2 separate regions of the Homo sapiens genome follow, and region 2 is linked to region 1. The links come from fine-mapping of genetic effects on gene expression. A gene starts in region 1. The other region holds a variant in brackets. All regions are shown on one strand. Distances are from middle to middle.

Region 1 (9,824 bases):
TTGTTTGTTTATATATGTGAGGTTACTTTTGTGAAGTACTGAGTCCCTTCTAGAAATTCTTTTCTCATGTTACCACTCGCTCACAAAGAGTGCCTGTACTGATACAAAGGAGGCAGATATGCTGAGAAGAAAAACACATTCAAGGTTAGAGCAATGTATCAAACTTCAAACTTTACTAACTCATCTTAGATTAAATCTATTAAAGGTTCTAATTACTTCATGCCACTTAAAGATTGTGGTTTTTACATTATGCAGTTATTCTATTATTTTATTTCAGTTCATAATTAAGAACAATAAAAAATATTGAGATATATTAGTCACTTCCTGCCTTGTGTTTAACAGTTCTCAATGGTAATTTCTCCACCCCAAGGAACAATTTTTAAAAAAATCAAACATCAAACAAATAGTTCACGCAATTCTTTTATGAACAGGCTTCCTGTAGCAGCATAGTTTACACTAAAAAGAAAATCATGTGCTGATGAATTGTTGCTTATTTTGCAGCTTCCTTAGTTTATAATGACCTAACTAGCTAACTAGAGGAAGAGTGAAAAATTGATTACTTACATATGGTGTACATTGTTCCAACAGAATTTGGAGTGGTTGACAGAATAGAATAGAATCAAAACAGTTAGTCTAGCCAATATTCAATGCTGCTTTATCGTTGAATAATTTCACTTCCCTACAGATGTTTAGTAAAGTAGATATTCAACCATTCATTATTCTTCCCCACCCCAAAACTTTTATTTTACAACTCAGGTTACAAAAGGAGGAGTGCAAATTTGTGATTACTATTACTAAATATTGTGATTACTAAAAGTTGTGATTACCATTACTATATAGTGTGATTACTAAAAATTGTGATTACCTTCTTTAGCTACAGAAGAGCAAAGTGAAAGGGAGGTTCGCGAGGTTATTATTCAGGTTGATACATTATGCTGATCAGTTGTTTATACTGCCTGAAATCACTCTACCAGATGTTCATTTATATAGTTTGTGGGACTTAGTTTCAGAATACCAGATTATAATATAGGTTTTGTGTAAATATCTCTATAATCTTAACACAATCTATTTACTTAAAAAAATTAGTGCAACCCTGTGTTGGCATGGTTGAATTCTGCTGCAATTCATACATCCATCCTCATCACCTCAATCATGAATGCAGCATGCAGGAGATGTAAGAACTAAATCAGACTGTCACCAGAACTTCCTCCCACATGTGGAGGGACTTGCCCTAGAATTGTCTATTTTCTATCTCTATAATGTTCAAAGCCTGGAGAACAGCTCAGTGGTGGCTGTGTCCTGGAATGATGCAGCGTGACTGAATGCCGAGCTGTGAGCACAGATATGGGTTTCCTCCTTCTTCTCTGGTCCTGTGATTTCATCAGTCTTGGGCTTGCTGCCTTCTGAAAGCAGTGGGTCCCAGAGTCAATCATACCTTCAAACTATCCAACAGAGTCACTCACTTAATCATTAGGATTGCTTGGGTCTCCTTGAGATGATATTTCCAAGTCTTTGTTTTAAAGGTAGAGAAGCTAAAGCCCAGCAATGAAGGAAGTAATTTGGCCTCATTCATTCACTGAGCTTACAGTCTAGTTGGGGAGAAAACAATTAATTAAGGAATCCATAAGTATGGAAATATAAATTGTAATGAAGGAAAATCACGGAGAGCCATGAGTACCTACAACAGGAAACAGGGATGCTCAGGGAATCTGGGAGAGCTTCCCTGAGGAAGCGTGTTGAAGTATGACACAGAGAATAAATGAGGGTTAGAAAGGCAAAAGGGGGAGTGGTGGCAGACAGTAGGAACATTTCAGGCTACAGGTATAGTGTACATAAAGGCCCTGCGATCAGTGACACAGAATAGGGCCTACTTTTCCTGAGTTTCAGTATAGAGATTTTTAAATTCTTCTAGAAGTGACTTTGTAAGCGTTAGTTTCTTTCCTGGTGTCCTCTGGTACCCTGGATAACAGCTCATCCTTCCTGAAAACAGGCTGTCAAAAGTTGCATTACATACACAAAGCAAACCAGGGTGGTTTTTAAACTTTTGTCTGAGCTGTCACTTACCTCCTGATACAAGGTAGCCATGGACTTTTGATAATAAAACACAATGAAACTGATTGTAACAGATTGGAAGAGGAACTGTGCATTTCCTACTCAAAGTTAAATATTTTTCCCAAATTGACCCAAAATAGGTGACTGTTTGGCATTGGATGAGGTAATATTAAGTGGGTGGGTATTTCTCATAAGACTTTCTTTGGAGTTGTATAGAAGTCTTTTCCCCGCAGTGAGATGTGCAGGACGTTCTTAAGACATGGCTGTGAGCTAGTGCGGGGTGGGACATGTCTCTGGGAATACAGGTGCTAGCCCTCCAGGAGGGGACTGGCACAGCTCTCTGCCTAATTAGATTTACTCTTGTGCCCAGATGTCCGTGACACTTAGAATTTGTTCTTCCTACTTAGACCTCGCTATTCACCTTAGGGACAATAGGTATTCAAAAGGACTACCATTGGGCACTCGCTTCTGACAATCGGCTTCTCAGAGATGGACTGAAATAGGAGTATATTAGTTGTCACATAAAGTGTGATGTCAGAGCCATCTCAAAGCAAATGATGTGAATGTGATATCTGTTTGTCCTGTCATTTAAAACTCACATTACTTCAGCTCACAGGTGTTTTTTTTTCTTTTTTTAAAGGAATAATAGACTGTTAGAGCTACAGGGGACATAGATAGGATCTGATGTGACCTTTTCATTTTATACACGGGAAAACTAATTCCAGGAGAATGATGTGGCTTGCCTAAAGGCATATTATATGTCAGCTGTAGATCTGGGAGTCTAAATGGTCTCGTAACTGTTTACTACACAAGCTATAATACCTCCCTTAAGTGGGTGTAAAATTGTCATTGTGAAGAACTTTTCTCTTCATGAATTTGGGTGCAGAATATACCAGAGAGGAATTATATAGACTAATTCCTACCCTTATTAAAAATAGTTTCTCTCAGCTAATTTAGACACCCCCCTTCTGAAAAAGAAATCAGTTTACCACCATAAACATAGGAAAAGAACCTCTAATTATATATGTTGCAAAATAAGTGATATCTTTTTCTTAATTTCAGATAAGCTCTTATTCACATTTTTTCACTCTATCTCATGTGCTGTTTACTTCCTTATCTCTCAATCTGCACCTGCTCAAAAGAAGCTCAAGTTATCTCAGTCATGTCATTAATATATATGATTATATATTATATATAACTATATATTATATATATGACTATATATTATATATGTAACTATACATATAATATATATAGTTTTATTTTGTTTTGTTTCAACCTCATTTTAATGAAAGGGTCGGAGCAACCACAGTAAATGTCTGATTTTAAAACTGAATACCTATCTTGGACTACAAAATAGGCAGGGATAGTTTGTGTTATACTCAGACCAAGTTGGTGTACAGGAAAATCTCAATGCAGGCAGTGGCCAGGGGCTGGAAAGTGACAACAGGATGTGGAGAAGTCTCTCAAAGTGTGGCCACCTCACCCCAGATCACCTGATGTGCTTATTTAAAATGAGGCTCCACCTCAGACCTTCTGAATCCCATTTTCCTGGGGGTGAGGTATGCATATTGCTCCCAAAGTAAGTTTTCTGCATGATTCTTAGGAACATTTAGATACGAGAACCCCAAGAATAGAGGGAAGAAAAATAGAAGACGAGCTAAAGGAAATGATAAATAGTTGTGGTTACCATTCATCTCATTTGAGGCAAGTCCTTTTAAGTCTCAATTTCCCATCTGAGCTCATTCTATTTTCCCTCTGTTCCCTTCCATTTCTGAATTTCCCCAATTCTAAGTTTTTCTCTGAACTTTGAGCCTGTGAAAAAAGAAGGGATGCTGCCTCAGGCCACCCCAGCCTAGATACTCACTCTGAGTGCCATGAGGTAGTAGAGGACACTGATGACAGTCATGGGGAGGAGGTAGAATAGGAAGGAGGTGACCTGGATGATGAAATTGTAGATCCACATGGGCTTGATGACCGTACAGGTGGCCGAACCTGGGACCAGGGACCCATTGGGGAAGTAGTGGAACTTGATGCCATGGATGCTGGTGTTGGGCAGGGAGAAGAGCACGGAGAAGCCCCAGACGATGCCGAGGATCCTGAGGGCCCGGCGCCGGGTGCTCTGCAGTTTGGCGCGGAACGGGTGTAGGATGGCCACGTAGCGCTCCACGCTGACGGTGGTGATGCTGAGGATGGAGGCGAAGCACACGGTCTCAAAGAGGGCCGTCTTGAAGTAGCAGCCCACGGGCCCGAACAAGAAAGGGTAGTTGCGCCACATCTCATAGACCTCCAGGGGCATTCCAAGGAGCAGGACCAGGAGGTCAGAGACCGCCAGGCTGAAGAGGTAGTAGTTGGTGGGCGTCTTCATAGCCTGGTGCTGCAGAATCACCAGGCACACCAGGACATTGCCAATGACCCCCACCACAAAAATTGGCACATACACCACAGACACGGGGAGGAAGAAGTGGCTGCGCCGAGGTCCGCAGAGGAAGGCCAGATACTCCTCGGTGCTGTTCAGGTGTTTCTGGAATGGATCTTCTAGTTTCTGCTGGTAGATCCAGGAAGCATTCTGAAGTTTTTCCATCCCTGACATTAAAATCCAAGGCCTGAGCCTCCCCTGGTACGAGGCTCTGTTTCAAGCTGAGCCAGGAAAAAAAAAAAAAAAAGAAAAAAGGAAAACAAAAAAGAGAAAGCAGTCACGAAAGTCACAGGCTTCGTAAGGAAGGCTGGGAGAGAGTGAGTGTTTCACCCTCCAGGTTAGGCTGCCTGGACCGCCGATCCCTTTTGAAGAGCCCCGGAGACACAAGCCCCTCCCCTTGACAGGCTGAGGGCCAATGAGAGTGTGTTAGGCTGCACTGGAGGAGAGGGGTGCTGGCTTCGAGTCAGGAAGCAGGGGAGGAGGCAGAGACCTCTCCCTGAATGGGAAGGAGCTGGGAAGGCAGAGCTGACACAAAAGAAGCCACTCGAACTTCATGGATGGGCACTTTGAGCAATGCAGGTTGCAAAGTTGTGGGAATCTGGGTAGACATAGAAATTAAAGTTGCAGGGCCATGGGCAAAAGAATACCAATCTCCACTAACCCTTGTCAGCCGTACAGCATGATGAAAATAGGAGATCAATAGATTTCTCAAGTTATCTTGTTCCACTGGAAATTCAGGGTTCTCTGGGGATTAATGTGATAACATGATTAATGTGACTTTTTGGTTTTAACTGCATCAACGATAGAATCCGAAGCCTGAAAGGGCGCATGCACAGTGCCTAGCCCTGACTGCTAACTGACTCTTCAGTCTCAGCAGAGCTTTGCTGTAAGCAAAAGGCAAATGGACTTCAGAATTAGGAACACTCATAGAAATTTAGGAAAGTTGGCACAGTTACCCAAACTCTTAGAGGCTTATTTCCTTATCTGCATCATTAATTCGATTGCGTTCCACAATAACTTCTTGAGGATTCACTATTTGCCAGGGAATGTTCTAAGCTTTGTAGAAACACTAGTGTACAAGCAAGACAAGGTCTCTGCCCTAGTGGAGCTTTTCTTGCAGTAGGGAATTCTGAAAACACACAAGCAAATGAATAAATTAATAATATAATTTCAGATAGTAATTGATAAATAATTATTTATCAAGGATGGTGAAAGAAAACTTATCTCAGGAGATGTCACTTTAGCTGAGGTCTGAATGATGAAGTCAGTCATGAAAGAGCTAAGGGAAGTGTATTACTCAGCAAAAGTAATAGCAAGTGCAAAGGTCCTGAGGCAGAAACAAGCTGGATAGGTTTTAAAAATATCAGGAAGACCAGAATAACTGGAATTTAATAAGTGGTCAGCAAAGTATGAATGCTTAGATTGAAGTGGCTGGCAGGTACAGGTTCATGTAAACTCTTATAGGCCATGGAAGAGAGTTTAGCTCTGATTCAAATGGCAGGGAGAAGTCTTTAAAAGATTTTGCACTGGAGAATTAACGAGGGAGAAATTTTAACAGAAGGTAGGTAAGAGGCTAGTAAGACATAGTAGTGGCTTGGATTCTATGAGCAGTGGAGTTGAGAGATTTCTTTGGATTTAGGAATATTTTTGCAGGAGATAATACCTTTTATGGTCATTGAGAAGACTAAATTAAATTATATATAACGAAGCAACTTATACTTAAGAGATGCTCACTAAATGTTAATTTTTTCCCTTTATTTGTTAAATCAGATTATGACGTTAAAAATTAGAGAGGGAAAGTGACTTGTCCAAGAATAAGTCATCTCTCAAGTTAAGATAGTTTACGCTGCTGTAACAAATGATTGACATATCTTGGTGGTTTTAAACAATACAGATTTATTTCTCTTGTACTTCAAATGTATTGAGGGTCTGTCTCATGCTATGCTCACTCATAAACCTAGGCTGATGCAGTGGTCACTCTCTGGAATTTTGATTATCATTGTGATAGAGGAAAAGAGAGCTCTGGATGGTCTTAAGTAGGTAATTATAGGCTCTAGCCCAAAAGTAAGTAACTCATTGCCAGTTTTTCTCACAGCTCATTGACCAAGGTTAATCATATGTACCCATTCGACTACAGCAGGGTCAGGAAGTGCTGTCTTAGCATGTGCACAGAAGATGGAAAAGTAGGAAAAATTGATCAATAACATTAATAATAATTACAGACATGTAATAGGTATTGCAGAGCCAGAATTAGGGCCCTCTAGTTAAAGGCAAGTTTTGATGTTAAAATCACTATTTACAAACTTTAACGTATTTTTCTAATGAAATAGGAAAAGTTTAATGAGAATATCTCATTTAGATGTAAGGATCGTTATAAGGGTGCACAGTGGCAGACTATAAACTTAGCGCTGAGGAAGATGGAAAATATTTCTTTCTTTAACAAAAATATTTTTCCATAAGTTACTGGGGTACAGGTGGTATTTGGTTACACAAGTAAGTTCTTTAGTAGAGATTTGTGAGAACCTGGTGCACCCATCACCCAAGCAGTATACACTGCACCATATTTGTTGTCTTTTATCCCTCACCTGCCTCCCTCTCTTCCCCTAAAGTCCCCAAAGTCCATTGTATCATTCTTATGCGTTTGCATCTTCACACCTTAGCTCCCACATATCAGTGAGAACATATGATGTTTGGTTGTCCATTCCTGAGTTACTCCACTTAGAATAATAGTCTTTAATCTCACCCAGGTCATTGCAAATGCTGTTAATTCATTCCTTTTTATGGCTGTGTAGTATTCATATATATGTATGGAAATATATTTATATATTATATATCCATATATGGATATATATTTATATATTATATTTATATTATATTATATTATATATTATATTATATTGTATATTATATATATTATATATAATATATATAAGATATATTATATATAATATTATATATAATATATATTATATAGTATTTATATATGATATATCCATATATATGGATATATAGGATATCCATATATGATATATCCATATATATCAATATATATCAGAGTTTCTTTATCCACTCACTGATTGATGGGCATTTAGGTTGGTTCCACAATTTTACTGTTGCGAATTGTGCTGCTATAAACAGGCATGTGCAAGTATTTTTTTCGAATAATGACTTCTTTTCCTCAGACACCCAGTAGTGGGATTGCTGGATCAAATGGTAGATCTACTTTTAGTTCTTTAAGGAATCTCCACACTATTTTCCATAGTGGCAGTACTAGTTTACATTCCCACCAGCAGTGTAGAAGTGTTGCCTGATCACCGCATCCACACCAACATCTACTGATTTTTGATGCTTTGATTATGGCCATTCTTGCAGGAGTAAGGTGGTATCGCACTGTGATTTTGATTTGCCTTTCCCTGATTATTAGTGATGTTGAGCATTTTTCCATATGTTTGTTGGTCATTTGTATATCTTCTTTTGAGAATTGTCTATTCCTGTTCTTAGCCCACTTTTTGATGGGATTTTTTTTTCTTACTGATTTGTTTGAGTTTGTTGTAGATTCTGGGTATTAGTTCTTTGTCAGATGTATAGATTGTGAAGATTTTCTCCCACTCTGTGGGTTGTCTGTTTACTCTGCTGACTGTTCCTTTTGCCATGAAAAAGCTCTTTAGTTTAATTAGCTCCCAGCTATTTATCTTTGTTTTTATTGCAATTGCTTTTGGGTTTTTGGTCATGAATTTCTTGCCTAAGCCAATGTCTAGAAGGGTTTTTCCAATGTTATCGTCTAGAATTTTTATAGTTTCAGGTCTTAGGTTTAAGCCCTTAATCCATCTTAGTTGATTTTTGTATAAGGTGAGAGATGAGGATCCAGTTTTATTCTCCTACATGTGGCTAGCCAATTGTCCCAGCACCATTTGTTGAAAAGGGAGTCCTTTCCCCCACTTTATGTTTTTGTTTGCTTTGTTGAAGATCAGTTGGCCATAAGTATTTAGGTTTATGTCTGGATTTTCGATTCTGTTCTTTTGGTCTTTGTGCCTATTTTTATACCAGTGCCATGCTGTTTTGGTGACTATGGCCTTATAGTGTAGTTTGAACTCAAGTAGTGTGATGCCTCCAGATTTATTCTTTTTGCTTAGCCTCTCTTTGGCTATGTGGCTCTTTTTTCGTTCCTTATGAACTTTAGAATTGTTTTTTCTAATTCTGTGAAGAATGATGGTGGTATTTTGATGAGGATTGCATTGAATTTATAGATTGCTTTAGGCAGTATGGTCATTTTCACAGTATTGATTCTGTTCTCCATGAGCATGGGATGTGTTTTCATTTGTTTGTGTCATTGATGATTTCTTTCAGCAGTGTTTTGTAGTTCTGTAGTTTTTTTTGAGACAGATTCTCACTTTGTTGCCCAGGCTACAGTGCAGTGGTGCAATCTCGACTCACTGCAATCTCTGCCTCCTGGGTTCGAGTGATTCTCCTGCTTCAGCCTCCCAAGTAGCTGGGACTACAGGCATGCACCACAGTAACTCCCAAGTAGCTGGGACTACAGGCATGTACCACAGTAGCTCCCAAGTAGCTGGGACTACAGGCTGGGACTACAGGCATGCACACTACAGGCATGCCTGGCTAATTTGTATATTTTTAGTAGAGATGGAGTTTCGCCATGTTGGCCAAGCTGGTCTTGAACTCATGTCCTCAAATGATCCACCCACCTTGGCCTCCCAAAGTGCTGAGATTACAGGTGTGAGCCACCGTGCCCAGCCAATATTTCTTAATATATGAGGCAACAAATCTAAAATTCAAAGGCATTTCCACATTGTGACAGGGTAGGTCTAATCAAAAAGGATGATGTCTAGTACAGAATGTAGTAGCAGGCTCAATGCAGGGAGATGCTATAGAAGTAATAAAGGCACGGACTGCAGCGTAGCTTTGGGATTCAAATCTTGGTTCTGCCTCCTACTAGCTATGTGACCATAAGGAACATAATTAAACTCTGTAAGCCTCAGTTACTCCATCAGCAAAATGAGTAAAATAGCAGTATTGCTTTACAGGATTTCTAGGAGAATTAAATCGTTCCTGGTAAAATATTCAGTGTAAATTATTTTAAATAACATAATATTTAAATAAGTATTTAATAATGGGATATGCAATTGAATAATAATGATAATTTCATGATGGGGATGTCTTTCTTTTTATTGGGGTCAGAAAGACTATTACAAGATTTAAAAACTGGGAGATGTGCTTGGAGCTGCTAAAATGAGGAGTACTTCCAGCTTTTAATTAACTTTTAGTGCAGTATAGCAAGTCAGAATAGCTTCTAGGAAAGTATATAGACATCTGTTCCCCAGGTCACCAAGGTTTG
Region 2 (9,824 bases), 95 kb after region 1:
CCTTTTTTTATCTCTTCCTTACTCTGAGACTTCCATTCCACACACATGCACATACACTCTCTGAAGTGAACTCAATATTGTATTGTCTTCATAATAAAACAAAAGATGAAGTTTAGAACTGGATCATTTGGCTTTTTCTCTCATCTCTCCCTAATTTAAAATTCTTGCATTTCTTAATAGTCAGCATTCTCTTAGATCTGCATTTGGGCTCAACACATTTAAGCCTCATCACAATCTTCTTTGTAGTTTTACAGAGACTTTTCCAGAAAATCTGCTTGGTCTGCCCACCATAGCCTGCTCTGCTTCCTGTCAGAATGAAGCTAGGCATACCAAATTCCTTGATCTCCTTGTATTGTGTGTCTTCACGGTGTTGATGCTTGTCACATTTCTTTTAGGAATGTTCTCATGTTTTCTCAAGTACTACAGCCTGGGAGCTGTTGCATACATTTTAGAACACTTATTATTATCCCATAAGCCTCTGAGCTTCTGATTTATTTTCAGTCTTTATTCTCTCTGTTCTCCAGATTGGATAATTTCTACTAAGATCCAATCTACCTTCAGATACTAATCTACAGAAGATAATCTCTCTCTACATTCACTGATCTTTTTTTCCCCTTGTCTCCAGTACTCTTGTAACGCCTTTTCAAATAAATTTTCATGATATTTTACTCTTTGGCTGTGGAATTTTCATTTTTTTCTTTTGTTTAGCTTTCATTTTTCTGCCTAGTTTCCCTGCCTTCTTTATTCATTATGACATATTTGTCTTTACTTTTTGAAACATCGATTTAATATACCTTTTGAGTCCTTGTTTGCAAATTCCAACATCTTGAACATTTCAAGTTCAGTACCTATTGACTGCTTTTTCTCTTGACTGTGGATTACATGTTCTTTTGTGAGTTTACTAGTTTATTCTATACTACATGTTCTAAAGGAAACATGGTAGAGACTGTGATTCAGTTTTCTTCTAAAGGATGTTTGTTTTTTTTCTGATAGGCAGTCCACCTAAACACCAATTGTCTCTCTTGAAGTGGATGAAATCTGAGATCTCTGCTCAGTTCCTCCAGCCTCACAGATAATGTTTTACAGTCTGAAACTTGGAGTCCCCTGAATTTGTATTTACAGTTTAGCCAAGGATTTGACAGGTATTCAGATGTAGATTTAGGGGCTTCCTCCTTTTCTAAATTTTCCCCTTCACTTTCTAGCTATTTTGGCAGCTCTAAACTCTATGGCCTTACTTCCATTCCTATGCCTTTGACTTTCTTCCTGAATTCTTTCCATTCATTTTCCTGCAGATTGGGTAATGTCCACAGGTGCAAAGCTTACTACACCTGAATCTTATCCAGGGCAGTGCCCTTCCTTCAAAGGCCAACTTTCAATTTCATCTTGCTTTCAATGTTTCTTCAGGCCTTCAAAAAAACAGTTGTTTTTGTTGTATTTTCTGTTTTGTCTAGTGTTTATAAATCTTGTCTGTGAATGAATAAATTTGATAAAAGCTTCACTGCCATTACAGGAAGTAGATCATGGAAAAGTAGATTTTTCTAAGTGGAAAGATCAATGCTGTTAAGTCCAGATACAATATGAACCACATACGTAACTTGAAATTTACTAGTAGCCACATTAAAAAACAGTGAAAATACATAGAAAAAAATACGTTCTATTTAATTGAACATACCCAAATGTTACTGTTTCAACAAGTAATCATCGTAACATGAAGATATTTTCCATTGTTCTTAATATTTAATCTTTGAAATTTTGTGTATACATTTCACTTTTGGCAAAGCTCAATTCAGACACTAAATTTTTAATAGTTAAAGAGAAATGTACAATAATGTAGTTATGTTTAATTGAAAAATATTTTATATTGCTTCAGTTTTAAAACTTAAAATTGACTCAGTTAAAATATAAAAACTTAATTCCTCAGTTTTGGTAGCCACTTGTGAAGTAACCAGTAGCCATATGTGACTAATGGCTACCATACTGAGCAGGACAGGTCTAGATAATAAGAAAGGATTTCTATATTTTCACCCAGTGACATGATCTTAATATAAAGTGCAAGTATAATTTTATACAAATTAAAAGTAATTTATATATAAACACTTCCATTTGGAAAAAGAAAACTGTTTTTCAATATTTGCAAAGATGTGAAAAAGAATCCTAAACTTGCAAAAAAGATTTTTCTAATAGCAAAGCCAAATTGGTTTTCATAATTATACATCATTATGTGCAGAATTTGTCAACAAATTACTGTTTTTAATGGAACACATTGTTCATTCTTCTATGCACTTGTCCTTTTGGGATTCATATTTAATAACATCCTGGCTATAAAAGCTCACTAGTTTGCAAGTGTCCCTTTTTGTTGACTAATTATAATGATGATGTTGATTATTGAAAAAGTGGTCTTTTGGTATTATAGTCATAATTGTCTTGATAGAAGTGTGTCTCAATTGGCTTATGTAAAATTCCAGCTCTGTGAAATAGCACAATTCTCATAAATGATGATTGACTGGGTAGAAAATGTATCTATAAACTTAGAGCTTCCTTAGCACTCAATTTGGGATGGTAGTGCAGTGAGAGCCTATGTTATAATTCTAATGAGACTTCAAGTTACTTATAAGTTTTACTACCGTATCTGATTGACACTACTTGTGCTAAATTCCATCAGTGTCTAAACAAATGAAGAATATACATAACACTCAAAAATCAAAATCTAAAAATTACAGGATCATAAGGCAGGAAGCTTTGAATATGACAAAGCATAGTGATATCAATTTGCACCATATAGTGGGGCCCAAGTGCCATGCATATATAGTACATATGGTAAATGACATAAAGGCAGATGTAGAGGAAAAATGGATCTAAGAACAGTAATACTGTCTCTCTTCTTGATCTACTGGACCAAACAGGTATCAGGTAATTAAAGAAGAGAGAAATTTTCATTGTTCAGGGCAACTCAGTAGACCTTTGGGGCATGTGGTGTCAGATATTTCAAAGTTTCTTGAGCACTTACTATGTATCATGTAAGGGCGACATTCTTGGAATACTATCGTAGTTCCTACCCTCAAATAGATAAGAATCCAGTGGGCAAATTGCCAGGCAAAGTACTAAGAGTTTTACATTCATGACCTTATTTAATTCACTTAAAGACAAACAAAAATAAGATGGCCATTCTTCAGGGAAGAAAGTTGAGGCCTGAAATATTACTTCTTTAGGGTTACCTAAAATGCGTGTAGCAGGACTTGGATTTAAACACAGGTTTGACTCACTCCAGATGCCACACCATAGTCTTAGCCATCATTCATAGTACCTAAGAGAGGTCATCTCTGAACTGGCATTTCTTGGTTCTATATGAACAACCCCTGCCTACACACCAGGATATAATTCTTAGGAAATTTAAAAGCCTGGATATCCGTATTTTTGGCTCTGTTGCTCTAATGAGAAGAGAGATTATTTCTATCTGTTCACAAAACTTATTTCTGTCAGATGGCAATGTTGTACATTCTAGGTTCACAAGGATATTGTCCTAGATCTTATACCCTGGGGCTTCAGTAGCTTTTGAACTCGAAGGTGTGATCCAGGCTTTCAAGAGTGGGTTATCCTACTCCTTTGAATTTAAACAATAGGATCTGAACCTGGAAGCGTCCCTACATGATCTTTCCCAACCCTATTGTATTTCAGGCTTGGATAACAATTCTAAAGAGGTAGAAACTTGTTCAAGATCCGGGAGTCAGTGTCAGCCATTAGACTCAAACTTGCCTCTCAACTCCCAGGTCTTAGTATTTCCTCTGTATCAGACACCTTTTGTCTTTCAGAACCCCTTGCATACTCCAAAGTTTGGACCAAATATTGTTGTAGGACTTTCTCCTTAGTTCAGCTAAAGGCTGGGTTCTTGTCACACAGCCATGAAAGATTAGGCTTGCAGACACTTGGAAGGGTGAGAAGGGCAGCGTTTATTGGATGAAAAGGTATAAAAGAAAACAGGGACTCTCAGCAAAGCAAGTCCTGCTAGTAGGCTTCCTGCCTCACAGTTTGAATTCCAGGTTACCACCCTGGAACAGGAGAGGCCAGGCTCCTATCGCCTGCAAAGGGCGCGAATTTCCATGGCTCCACTGCGTTCTCCCAGTGTGCAGGCTGATCGGAGTTTCTCCGGGCACCCCTTTATACTTGGCTGTCTCAATACAAGTATAAATAGGAAAACAGGCATGGAAGAACTTCTGGGAGTATCCAGAAGTTATAATTCTCTCATCCAACAAGGAGGCTGAAATGTTCTGAGTATTCCTATGGGTGTGGAATGGTAGGTGGAGAGTGACTAAAGGGCCACTCAATTTAATTATTCTTGAAAAAATAAATCTCTCCCACAATGGGAGGAACAATTTGCTTACTTTGTTAGCTAGATGTTTTCATTATGCATCATGGTTATAAATCACTGAAAGGGAAATTTATATTTCAGAATCACAGACTCTTAGGACCGTTTATCGTGCCATTCTTTCCTCTTTCCCTAGCTAATGATTAAACCCCACTTAAATATCCCCACCAAATAGCATCATCTAGCATCTCCTTTGGAAGTTTTTCATATGCATCTTATCTTTTGTTATTTATAACTCTATCACATAAATATTAAAATTAACCCCATTTTACAAATGAAGACTTGGCTGATACATGTTATTAAACAACAATTGATAACTGGACACAGAAAGAATTAGGACTTGTTCTGTCTGAGTCATGACCTTTGCTCCACCCTCTCTCACATAAAATTTTGCTTGCATACTTCCAGTGTTAGGGAACTCATTATTACC[T/C]TCCAGGGACAGGAAACTCATTACTACCCGGGACATTCCTGAATATCTGTGGGTTGTTGCGATTATGAGAAAGCTCTTCCTTTAAAGGGACTGAAATTTGTTTCTATTGGGCTTCTGAAAATTAATCTCACTTTATTTCCTTGTTCTATATGAGCATAAGTGTAATTCTTTTCACACACAATGATCCTTAAAGAATATTAAGAGAATTCCTCTGGTGTCCTTTTTTTTTTTTTTCCTTCCTCAAGTTATATACATATTCTCATTTCTTTCAGATGGTTCCCTTCCCCACCCAGCCCCACCCTGGAACATAATTTCTAGTTATCTTGCCTTTGGGTCCCTCTGAACTCCTTTCACTTTAAATGAGCCTTAGAGTAAGGCTTCTTTTTTGACTGATGTCTGAGATTGGGTGAAATGTATTAAGAGGAAAAAGAAATTATTCAGTATGGTAGCTTAGATAATATAAAATATCTTCTGTTGCACACACAAGTTCAGAGGTGAGTGGTCTGAGGCTAGTAGCATTGCTCTGTGATCTTTAATCCTTAGCACGAGACTTCCAGGGTTGCTATGATCTTCATTTGTCAGCCAGCCGTCAGAGCATCAGTGGAAAGCAGCTCCATCTTTACATCTTTAAGAATAGCAAGACTCCGTCTCAAAAAAAAAAAAAAAAAAAAAAGAGAATGTAACTGGAAGTTTTGCATATCACTTCCTTCCAAATTTGTTCAGGTGCCTGGGATGGAAAATGCCACCTTTACCTGGGCAGCCATCCATGTTCCTGGAGAAAACTCAAGAGAGTGGGCCAGCCATGATGGCTCATTCCTATGATTCCAGCACTTTGGGAGGACCACTTGCTCCCAGGAGTTTCAGGCTGTAGTGAGCTATGATTGTACCACTGCATTCCAGTGTGGGTGACAGAGCAAGACCCTGTCTCTATTTAAAAACCAAAAATGAATAAAAAAAAAAAAACCTCAGGAGATTCTATACTGAAAAGACAAAAGGAAACATGGATACTAGAGGATAGTTGCGGATTCTGCCACATAGAGTAAGGTGTAAATAAAAAGCAAAAGTCAAGAAAATATTGACCAGGGCCTGGAAACAGAAACCAGGAAGTTTCAGTTCTTTGTTTTATCTGACCTCTAGCACATGACTTACAATTTTGCCTTCAATTCTAAAAACAATATTAATTGCATACACTTTTTTTTCTATTTCACAAAGATATTGTGATTCCTTTTTATTTTTTTATTTTATTTATTTTATTTTATTTTTTTGAGATGGAGTCTCGCTCTGTCACCCAGGCTGGAGTGCTGTGGCGCGATCTCGGCTCACTGCAACCTCCACCTCCTGGGTTCCCGCCATTCTCCTGCCTCAGCCTCCCAAATAGCTGGGACTACAGGCGCCCACCACCACGCCCGGCTAATTTTATGTATTTTTAGTAGAGACGGAGTTTCACTGTGTTAGCCAGGATGGTCTTAATCTCCTGACCTCGTGATCCACCCACCTTGGCCTCCCAAAGTGCTGGGATTACAGGCGTGAGCCACCACGCCCGGCCTGTGATTCATTTATAACAGTGATTTTACTCCCTGTACTGAATGGCTGTATTATGTAGTTATGGCTGGTGTGATTATTCCTGAAGTGATCTGTTTGGAATGGGCACATTATTAGGACTTGGAGAGGTAGAATTATAGGATAGAAGATTCTCAAATTCAAGAAATGGTGATAAGATTATTCAGAAAAATGTTACTATACATTAAAGCTCTTCAGCTATTTTTTGGTCCTCAAGGTTTAATGAATCTTTGGGGGAAAAAACAGTTTGGGGTTAACTTTTTTATGTTAAGCAGAAATTTGATATAATTATTTTCCTTATTGAGTCTTCTTTGGACAGAGAAAGTGGTTCTGGTAATTCTACCGTGATTTCATTGATATGATAATTAGTTGTACTGAGGATGAATCTGTAGCATTTAAAAGTTGTACAATAAATAAAATGTAAGCTCTGCTGAGCCCTGGGCATTTTTGTTAAGGCTTTATGCAGCAAGTTCTACTTAGAGAACAAAGCATATGCCTTGAGGGTGAGAAAAAGTGGCTTTCATAGGAAGAATTTGGGATCAAAAGGCACTTACCTATCCCTACCTCTATGGTCTAGAATTAGATACACGAACCCATGAATAGGTCCCAGACTGCCCGGGAGCCATGTCTGGTTCCACATATTATTGTTTCTTTACTTCTACTAGGTAAATATACTCTTCTCACCATACTTCCTGATCAGTTGTGACTCTGGTGAGGTGATCTATAAAAGACTACTGTCTTAGGAGGTTTCAATCCTTGTGTCAGGCCCCATTGCCATAGTAGCAGAGACTGTAGGGCCCGTAGCAGAGACTGCCAGCATCTCTGCTCTCCCATCTTCCTTTCTAATAGGCTGTTAATGGGTAGCATCTATGTGGCTAGCTGAAAGCTTACCTTTCCCAGTTTCTCTTACTGATGGGGGCTGCGGCCACTAGATGTGAACAAAGCCATCAAATAGGGTGTCCATGAAAGCTTCTAAGCAAGACTAAGCATGATGAGGTGCACACTTCGGCTGCTATCTCACCCTGACTTTCTGTTAGGTGGAATGTGGGTGTGATGGCAGCAGCCATGAAGTAAGGTTGAAGGGAAGAAAGAGGAGCCTGGGTCTCTGACTTGGGGGCTGCTCTAATATCACACTGAAACTGCCTAGTCCCTGAATTCTTCTTTGGGGGCCCCAAAGACCTATGTCTTATTTAAACCATGTGTCTTAGGGCAAGTCTCATAGAAACAGAGCCTCAGACCAGGATTCAGGTGTAAACTTACAAAAGAGAGTGAAGCACCAAGGGGAAGTAGGGGAGAAGAATGTGGCCCCACATGAAGCCTAATCTTGACCTGATCTGTGAGGATGTGGGGAATTCCAGAGCATAAACTGCCCAGGGAGTTGTCCTGCAGAGTCCTCACACTTTGAGGCAAAGGGGTGAGCCCTTCGTACTACATATGAGTCAGCCATTGGCTGTGGGCTACCTCCAGAAGGTGTTGCATGCAAAACTTTCTGGGGGAGGCCACTCTTGTCAGCTGGGACAGTTCTCCAGAGGAGAGGCACAGAGTGAGCAATCAGCCAGCGCCTCACAGAGGCTGGGGTCTGGGTATGCCAGCCCAGGGCACACCCAGGCCGGGCTGGATAGGGTGTTGTGGTGCCTTCTGTAGTCCTCCCTACACATTGCTCAGAACCACTTGCTTCTCATATGACATTCATTTTATCCAGTTATGGCCTCTCCAGGATTCTGGGTTCAAGAGTCCTGGGGATTTTTTTATTTTTTATTTTTTATTTTTTTGAGATGGAGTCTCACTCTGTCACCCAGGCTGGAGTGCAGTGGTATGATCTCGGCTGACTGCAACCTCTGCCTCCCGGGTTCAAGTGATTCTTCTGCCTCAGCCTCCCAGGTAGCTGGGATTACAGGCGCCCACCACCATGCCTGGCTAATTTTTATATTTTTAGTAGAGACGAGGTTTCACCATGTTGGCCAGGCTGGTCTCAAACTCCTGGCCTCAAGTGATCTTCCCGCCTCGGCCTCCCAAAGTGCTGGGATTACAGGCGTGAGTCACCACACCCAGCCGAGTCCTGGGAAATTTTTAAGAGAAGGATTAGTGGGATGAACTACAGCACCTGCTGCAGTAGTTAGTCCTGAGCTGAAACATACTCAACTCCTTTCTCTGCCCCCGATCCTAGACTCCTTTCCCTCTCCGCTAGCACTTCTCAGGTATAGGTGGCTTGCCTTAGGCTGATCCTCATCTCTAATATGTCTGAAGAGCTGGTTATCATGCCTTTATCAGGCTGTGCTTGATCAACTTTCCCATTTAGAGTAAGAGTTAGGCACAGGAGTATCAAGAGATGCTCCAGTATTAGGAGAAGCTCTTCTAATGAGCAGGGGAAATAATTTATTAACCACACACCACAGACCCAAGGCTGTGCTCACCTGTTTCAGTAAAGGTATCACATTCAGCACAGAAGACCCAGTGGAGACTTCTGCTTGGGAAATTTATTGTTTAACCCACTATTGTTTTGCCAGGGTCCATTTTTTTTTTTTTTTTGGCAGGGATGAGACTGATTAATTATGTAAGATTATGAGGGAGACTATCATTCCTACATCCTTTATGTCTTTTTTGGGTTAGGGGGAGACAGGGTCTTACTCTGTCACCGAGGCTGGAGTGCAGTGGCATAATCACAGCTCACTGCAGCCTCGATCTCCCAGGTTCTAGCAATTCTCCTACCTCAGCCTCCTGAGTAACTGGGACTACAGGCATGCGCCACCAAGCCTGGTTAAATTTTTAAATTTTTGTAGCGATGAGGTCTCTATGTTGCCCAGGCTGGTCTCAAACTCCTGGGATCAAGCAATCCTCCCATCTTGGCCCCCAATAGTGCCAAGATTATACCTTTATGTCTTTGAGAATGATGTTAATCTGTCATGCCACCTGTGTGCAATGCTGTTTTTGATTTATCATCTTAGCTAGACATGGGAGTAGTTTTTGTGGCTATAGCCTAATCTTTCCTATTATGATAGTTCTTATCCTACAGGTTAAGAAAGAAATGTGAAGGTTCTGCCAACTGCTAATTGTGTCCTTTCTAATAAAACACTTGGGATCTAGGGACATGACCACCAGTTGGTCTGTAGATCCAGGGTCTTGGATCTACAGACCAACTGGTGGTCATGGGAGAGACTTAAGAAACCTGAGCTAGAAATCCATTTATTATTTACTTAATCCCTGAGTCTCATAGGTAGGACATAATACTGCTTCACTTCTTTGGATATCAGTAATTAATATCAGTATTAATTAACCCAGACCCTGTATCCAGCAGCCCTCAAATGAATTGAATAGTCCCTTTACCCCAGTGTTTTGTCACCCAAGAAAATGGTGATAGGTATTTCTGGGGAAGAGCTGGTTGAAATCACTGCTATATATACTTCTCGTGATGTTGCAGTGTCTTTTCCTCATAGGAGACTTGCCTACTTCTTCAGTCAATGGGTTCTGGGT

Which allele goes with the higher level. Positions count from the first base shown, and alleles are read on the strand shown. Sizes are in standard deviations (SD) of each study's normalised expression.
With allele C in place of T in region 2, the expression in tibial nerve of the gene that starts at base 4,811 in region 1 is higher (moderate effect, 0.46 SD a copy in GTEx).

What was found.
Region 2: its variant is fine-mapped to the expression of NMUR2 in tibial nerve (GTEx, PIP above 0.99).

Annotation. Positions count from the first base shown.
Region 1 is chr5:152,400,469-152,410,292 of GRCh38, forward strand. It overlaps NMUR2 (neuromedin U receptor 2), which reads right to left and starts at 4,811. Exons shown (of 4, transcript NM_020167.5): 1 at 3,920-4,811. The coding sequence starts at 4,645.
Region 2 is chr5:152,495,606-152,505,429 of GRCh38, forward strand. It overlaps the pseudogene RPL36AP20. Among named protein-coding and RNA genes, the nearest start is that of NMUR2, 95 kb to the left of the region's middle. The variant T/C (reference allele first, on the strand shown) is at 4,794.